2 linked regions of the Homo sapiens genome follow. The protein of the gene in region 1 interacts with the protein of each later gene in a pairwise test. Each region holds a gene or a part of one and is shown on either strand. Other genes may lie near its edges.

Region 1 (3,500 bases):
AGAAGCTGGTCATGGAAGGGAAGGCTTCCCCATACAACATCCCTGCCCCTGCTGGCAGATGCCCTGCAGGGAACAGGAGCGAGCCCAGGAGGGCCCTGCACAGCTCCGGACTCCATTTCTTTTCACATGGGTGCTGTCCAGCAAGCGATCTGCGTGTCTGTCCAGCAGATGGGGCCTCCATGAGGGGCCCATTTTGACGACTGATAAATGAAACTCTATCTGCATTTTCCAGGAGTGTAAGAACGCTATCTGCCATCAGGAGACCAAAGGCAGCCAGCGCTTTCTCCTATGGCTTGACTTACACAGTGTCAGACCTTCAGGATTTAAGTATCGAGCAAAGGTCAACTCTTGAATTTGCTAACTGGTGTCTCTTGTTTGAACATTTGCCAGGTTCTGGTCTTTAGCCATGACTTACTGGGTGGGAGTGTTTAAGGTCAGTTCCTAATTAGAGGGCTCCTGGTCCTCTCTGTCCTATCCCCTACATTGCCTAATAGGGTGGCATTCTAGGGGACATCTCTCAGGGAAACCTTACAAGGTGCAAGTCCCCGATCACTTCCCAGCCACTTCACTCACTTTCTGCTTCTCATCCAAGTTGCTGCCGCTTGCCTCAGCCTTGGGACACCCCACCCCCCAAACTGGCCACCAATTAGATGCAGTGACCCCAACTTCCCTCTTTCATGCAGCACCCCATGTCCTCCCACAGATGCTTCTCGTTTTAAGGAGATTTACTGCTGATTACGATGGGGAAACAGATGGTGGGGGAGGGGCACAACAACAGAACAAACACAGGGAAGTTACCCAAAAGTTCCTGAAATCTATTCAAACCATGGCTATTGCTTACAGCCGACTCATGGGTCAGGCTTCGTGCAGGTGCACACGGGTATTCCCTCATCTCATCCTCTGTGCCACCCTTTGGGGTGAGGGTTGTTGGTCCCATTTTAGAGCTGGGGAAACTGAGGCTCAGTCCAAAGCAGGATGGAAATCCACACCTGTTGGCCTCTCCAGCAAACTGCCGTCCTCAAGGCTCCCAGCCCTTTCCTTTTCTTTTTTTCCTGAGAGTGCCTCATTCCTGAGCAGGCTCTCTGGGCCAGCCTTCCACCAGGGAGGGCACAGCAACACCTGCTCCCCCTGCCCTGCTGCCCAGCGTTGCTCTTCTGTTCCAAGCCCTTTACCTGCCCCCACCCACCCCCAGCCATGGGTATTCCTGCAGGTAGGTTGTGGTGTGTTCTAGGAGAGGAATAGGGGAGTTCTGAAAGCAAGGGTGAGGTGGCCACAGCCCCCGAGTGACCCACTATGGGGCTTCACGTGGGGGCCCCCGGGAATGAGGGGAGGGAGGGATGACAAGTTGTTAAGGGCCGGCCACAGGAAATAAGTTGCGAGCCAAAAGCCACCTGGCACCAGAGCAATCCTTTCTCAGTTACCTCTGTAGCCAGGCAGACGGGAAGAGGCCAGGGAGGGGAGGCAAGGGTAAAAAACTCCCTAGCCCCTTCTTGGAGGACTCAGACTAACCAAGACTCAAGGGCAGGGTCAGGAACTAGGCAAGGGGCACTGTCACCTGGCCAGGGTGGGAGGTGAAAGATGTTTGTGCCCATGACTTAAAGCCCAGCCCCACCACTTATTTGCTGTGTGGTTCCTTAGGCAAGTTACTTAACCCCTCTGTGCCTCCGTTTGCCCATCAGTAAAATGGGGACAATGGTAGGACCAAATTCTTGGACTTGCAATGAGGAGTAAGTGAGAGCATTTTTATTATATGGTGGACTTCTATTCCCTGGAAAGAGCATGCGTTGAAAGCTCTGAGATTGAGTCCTAGCTCTGCCACTTACTAAGTTACGTAACATTCAGTCAGTTATGTAACCCCACTGATCTTAGCCTTCTCATCTGGAAAAAGAAAGGGTTGAGCTAAGTTGTCTGTAAGACCCCTTCCACTTCTGATATTCCAAAGATCATTTTTTGTCCCAACAATTGCTACTAATTACAAAACAAGCACGCCCATACCTTAAACAGGTCCCCCAAGGATCTCTGAGTGGCAGCAACTTGCTTTTATAAAGCAACTTGAGCTACTGCATATGATCATTCATTCAGAAGACATGTATTGAGTGCCGAGCCAGCACTGCCTGGGAGCCAAAGGGGCTGGTGGGCACTTGGCCCCCGGAAATGGCATGCCTCCTTTCTCTCGGCCATTTCGCCCAGCTCCTGGCGGGAAGTGCAGCTGCTCCCAACTCTCAAATGAAAAGGAATTGTGCCTGCATCGTGCCTTTGCGAATCCCAGGGGCTGAACTGGGGGCTGGAGCAGGTCACTCGCACCGTCCACCCACCCCAGGCAGGGAGGAATACTCACGGCGGTTGGAGGCTGCCTGCCTTTGCTTGTAGACCAGGAGCAGGATGAGGGGGAGGCAGAGGATTCCTACGATGCAGGCACCCGTAGCCAGGGCTGCAGCCGTGATGTCTGAAAGGGCAGAGAGGTAGCCAAGGTGAAGCCCCATTCCCATTGCTCCTCCTGAGCATAAACTGAGGCTCAGAGAGGGAAGGCCAGGAAGCAGGAGACCCGCCTTTCCCCAGAGTCCCACAGCTAGACCCCCAGCAACCTACAGAGGCATGGAAGATAAGGCGGTTCTCCTTTCAAAGAGAGCCCTGTGCCTGCCGCCCTATGCCCCTGGAGCACTCAGAAACAAGACCTGTCACCTACAGCTCAGGCAGCTCCAGGCAAGAGAGGGAACAGAGTCCTCATCCCAGCCCACAAGGTACAGCTGGAACACCCTTGGCTACAGGTTGTTCTCTGAAAAGGGAGAGCAGGGCCTTCGCAGACCCCATGCCACAGAGCTCAAGGTCAAAAGAAGCCTAAGTGATGAAAGTTTTGAAAATAGACAGTGGTGACGGTTGCACATTGTGAATGTAATTAATGCCACCAAACTGTAGGCTTAAAATGGTTGAAATGGCAAATTTTACATTATATATGTTTTATCATAATAGATAAAAAGCCCCAACTCATCCCAGAGACTCCTTAGCTCTGGGATGGGGCCTCTAGAACCCCTTGATCTCACCACACAAGTCACAGGAGAAACACCCGGGGTGAGAACTAGAAAAACGTGAATCCTTGTACAATGTTTTTCAATTTTAAACTTATTAAACTACCAAAAAAAGTACAAGTTTAAAAAATATTCGAATCTCCTCCTCCCCTTGTACCAAGACCCCCTCTGAAGAGATCATCCCTGTGTGCCGGTTTTTGTGTTATGGTCCTAGTTATATTCCCTGCAAATACAGCAGACGCAGCATCATATGACAATGCTTTTCCCACTGAGCACAGCTTGGACATCTCTCTGTCTCCCCTGCCTCATTCTGCTTAGAGTTTTATCACATGGCTCCCACTAAATTTATTGAAGCAGTCCCCTGTTGGTAGACATGTTGTTTCCATTTTCAGCATAACTAATAATGTAGCAATGAACTTGTGCACGCAGCCTGGCTCACTCAGCAAGGAAATCTGTAGTAAATTCCTAGCGGTC
Region 2 (3,600 bases), on another chromosome or scaffold:
CCTGGGATTGGCTTGCAGGATTTACCAAGGACCTGAAATTAAATCCAGCAAATAATTTCTGAGCATCTGTGATGTGTCAGGTACTATGCTAGGTACCGCACTGATTAAGATGAGTAAGCACAGGGCCTGCACCAGAGACCTCAGCCTCAGAAAGCAGCCCTATCATGGCCCAACCCACCACCACTAAACGTAAGTTCTATGGTTCTATACACTCCCAATGTCTTACAGGACCGTTATCTTTTTTTTTTTTTTTTTTTTAACTCACAGACCTGAGGGAAGAACTCTTAGTCCTTTTCAAATGATATCTGAGCCAACCATCATCCCACCCTGAGGTTTCACCTGAGTTGGGTAGTTGACAAACTGTAGTGCTGAATTGCTGGAGACCATGGCACCCAGATAGGAGATAGAACAGGCAGCATAGAGCCAGCTCCGGGTACGATCCACCCTGGCAGTGTCAAAAAACTGGATCACTGGGAGAAGACAAAAAAAAAAAAAAAAAAAGAAAAGAAAAGAAAAAAAAAAAAAAACAAGAGAAACCTGGTGGGGCTAGGATGGACCACTAAGCAAAGCTGAAGCCACATGAAAGGAACTTGTCTGTCAAACAAGACACAAGCTATTTCTGTCCTGTTACACTGGGAAATCTCTGAAAATTATTCATCTTTCCAATTCTACCTAAGCCCAACAAAAGACCACATGCAGGGTGGAGGTGGGGGCCTCATTCAGTTCAAGGGACCAGTCAGCTCTGCTGCTAGTCCCCAGGGAACAAAGAGAGAATGCTCAAAGCATGCTTGAAGCTGACACACAAAAGAAACTCAAAGGGAAAGAAAAAAATGTTTTAAGTATTTTCAATGGGGATTTGGAATATAGAAGACCCATTCTCTGAACATTTCTAACTCAGAAGCTGATAAAAATTGGGGAAATAATATTTTACTCCACTTCAAAGTCATTAGTTTTACAGACTTCACAGAGAGGCTGTGTAAGTACAAAATGGGGTGGAGATCATGAGTTAGCCTTTAAGGTTGAATCAATGCTTAATGCCCAGCATACTGAGGGAACTTGGGGTGGTGGGGTACCCAACAAATTACTATCTGGGTACTCACAGATCTTGGCAAACACAGCATTGATCACACATTGAATGAAGACCAAAGTTAAGGCAAAGGTGAACGTCTCCTGCTTGGCTCCTTCCCCATACTTTCCTCTTGTTCTAGAAATGAAATGCATGAGAAAAGAGGGAGAAATTAGTGTATTTCACTCACTGTCATCTAATATATCCCGAGCCACTGAAAACTTTAAAATTATCTTGCCTCTCTGGATGTAGGCAGAGTTTGTTAAGGACCACTAGGCTCATTTGCAAAAGGGGCTGATTTTACTGGATCTAGAAACTAGACATCCCAGCCTACTGATTCCAAAGCCTAAGAAAAGAATACCCGAAAAAGACGGAGAGGAAACATGCAGAACGAGATAGTGAAATCAGGTACCCCAGGCAGGAGGAGACGGTATTTCGGCTATGGCACCAAGGCCGAGGACGAATAGGTTGTTTGCAAGCATCTGGGAGTACCAAAAGGGGGCCGACTCGGGTCCTGTTTGAGGAATAGAAGTCTCAGCCTGTAAAACGCAGGCCCTTAGAACCAAGCGGGGAAAAACAGCTAAGAAAAGAAAATAACCAAGTCCGAAGAATCCAGAAAATAATCCTGGAGTTCTGGAATTCTGGGTAGGCTCAGCCATAGCTGCAAAAGTAGTAGGGTGCTAAGAGGGCGACAGCCGGGCAGGAGGACAAGAGGAAAGCCCGGGTCCAGAGGCAGAAGGCCCGGGATCCCTGTCACAGGCTGGGGAGAGACTGTCGGCCCGCCCCCGGGGTCGCTCACATCTTTTCCTGCAGGATCCCATAGTAAAAATAGCAGACAAAGACACCCAGGAAGCAGAGCGGCAGGCGCAGCCGGTCGGGCACCAGGGAGCTGCTAGAGGCCATGAGACGCCCAGAGGAGCCGACTGGAGACCCGCTCACAACCGGCACCGGCAGCAGCGGCGGCGGAGGCGACAGCTCCAGCCGGACATCGCCGACCGGCGGCAGGGGCCTCATAGGAGCTGCATGCGACCGCTGTCCAGCAGGGCCCAGCAGTCACTACCAGAACTGCCGGCTCATGGCTGCCAAGGGGGAAACTCCTCAGAACCCAGCAACCACTTCCTAGGAAAGAAAACCCGCCCTGGGACCTTGGCTCCATCCCTGAGGGCCAGGGGAACCGGCAGCCTCGAGACTGATCCCTCGCCCTGGAGATTTTTCCAATCAGGCAACTCTGAGGACAACTGCGACCCAGAGCACCACAGGGTGTCCTAGAGCCACCTGGGCGTAGAATAATGACGTATAAGGATGTGGAGGCCACCAATTGGCTGCGCTGTGCGAAGACGGACAGGTAGGCGGGGCGGGAGGAGGTGTGGTCGGCAGAGCAAATCCAATAGTCTTTTCCGCGGCGGGCGGCCAGGCTTCTGCTGGGTCCTAATGCCAAATTCCTTACTGGAGCTTCAGCGCCGTCTAGCTGCTGCCCAGCGTCAGCGACTTTACCTGCTCATTACCTAGGCACATCACTAGGCTTCCAAGGGGGAGAGCGGCACAGTAAGTCTCGGCTTGGTCACTTAAAGGCGGGGTAACCTACCCGTGTCACCCAAGTTCTGAGCCAGAGTTTTCCAGGTCTGGAAACTAGGGATAATTAGTAATAGCCACCTTGTCGCCTCTTGGCTGTTGTGAGGATCAAATAAGAGTGTTTTGTAAACTGTAAAGTATGCTGTGCAAGCTTAAGGTATTATTAGTCATCACTGTTTGTCAGCCCTGATCTTATTTCCTCACATCGAGGGGTGGAAATGGAAGCTTACTGAAGTCAGTTTTCTTCCAAGTCTTAACAACTCACCAACAATGGCGCAAACCCTTCGGCCGCGCTCCTGAATATTTCCCATTAATGAGCTCCTCGTTGGATCCCTTCCTCATGCAAGTGTTGGGTCTTCACTTGCTGGCACGAATTGCCAGGGCAAGACTGACCTCAGGTCTTCCTACTACTACCTCCAACCCCCTACTTAATTGGCCCAAATCTCCGGCCACCTGGTGGACTCTGGGCTGCTCTCTAGGTCGAGGCTCCTCTTCTAGCAGCCTGCTCTTTTGGCACAGCCTCAGGCAAAGGAAGGAAATACTGGGCAGCACCACACCCATCGCTCCGGGCCTGACTCAATAAGGCTTTGCGGGGGAGCCAGAAGTCTTTTAGAGGGAGGAGTAAGGGATAGAAGATAGGGTGTCCCCAGCCCACTGTCTCCTCGATATTAGTGGCATGGGAAAGCCCCATACATTTGCTCTCTTGCTCACTAGCTTACTCTACTGGCTCAGCCCGCGATGCCAGGGCACCAAATAGCTGGGAAGAGAGACCTGCCAGCTCTACTTCTTTACCAGCTGGGACCTCAAACAATTCGCTTGTCCTGAGTCGAGTTTCCTCACGTGAAATTAATGGGAATATAATAACAAGCAGGAGAGCGCTGTGGTTAGAAACATGGGCACTGGATTCAAATGATCAGGTTTCCAATCCTAGCTCTCCCACTTCATATCTGTGTCTTTTGGGG

What was found.
Region 2: the proteins of VSIR (region 1) and SLC35B1 interact in a two-hybrid assay, tested with the Homo sapiens proteins (one large-scale study listed by BioGRID and IntAct).

The regions. Positions count from the first base shown.
Region 1 is NC_000010.11:71,753,021-71,756,520, forward strand, and holds part of VSIR (V-type immunoglobulin domain-containing suppressor of T-cell activation precursor), read right to left. Parts: intron 2,447-3,500; coding exon 2,339-2,446; intron 1-2,338.
Region 2 is NC_000017.11:49,705,865-49,709,464, forward strand, and holds the start of SLC35B1 (solute carrier family 35 member B1), read right to left. Parts: upstream 2,101-3,600; 5' UTR 2,081-2,100; coding exon of another isoform or gene 1,970-2,080; coding exon 1,866-1,969; intron 1,581-1,865; coding exon of another isoform or gene 1,479-1,580; intron 1,205-1,478; coding exon 1,101-1,204; intron 471-1,100; coding exon 340-470; intron 33-339; coding exon 2-32; intron 1-1.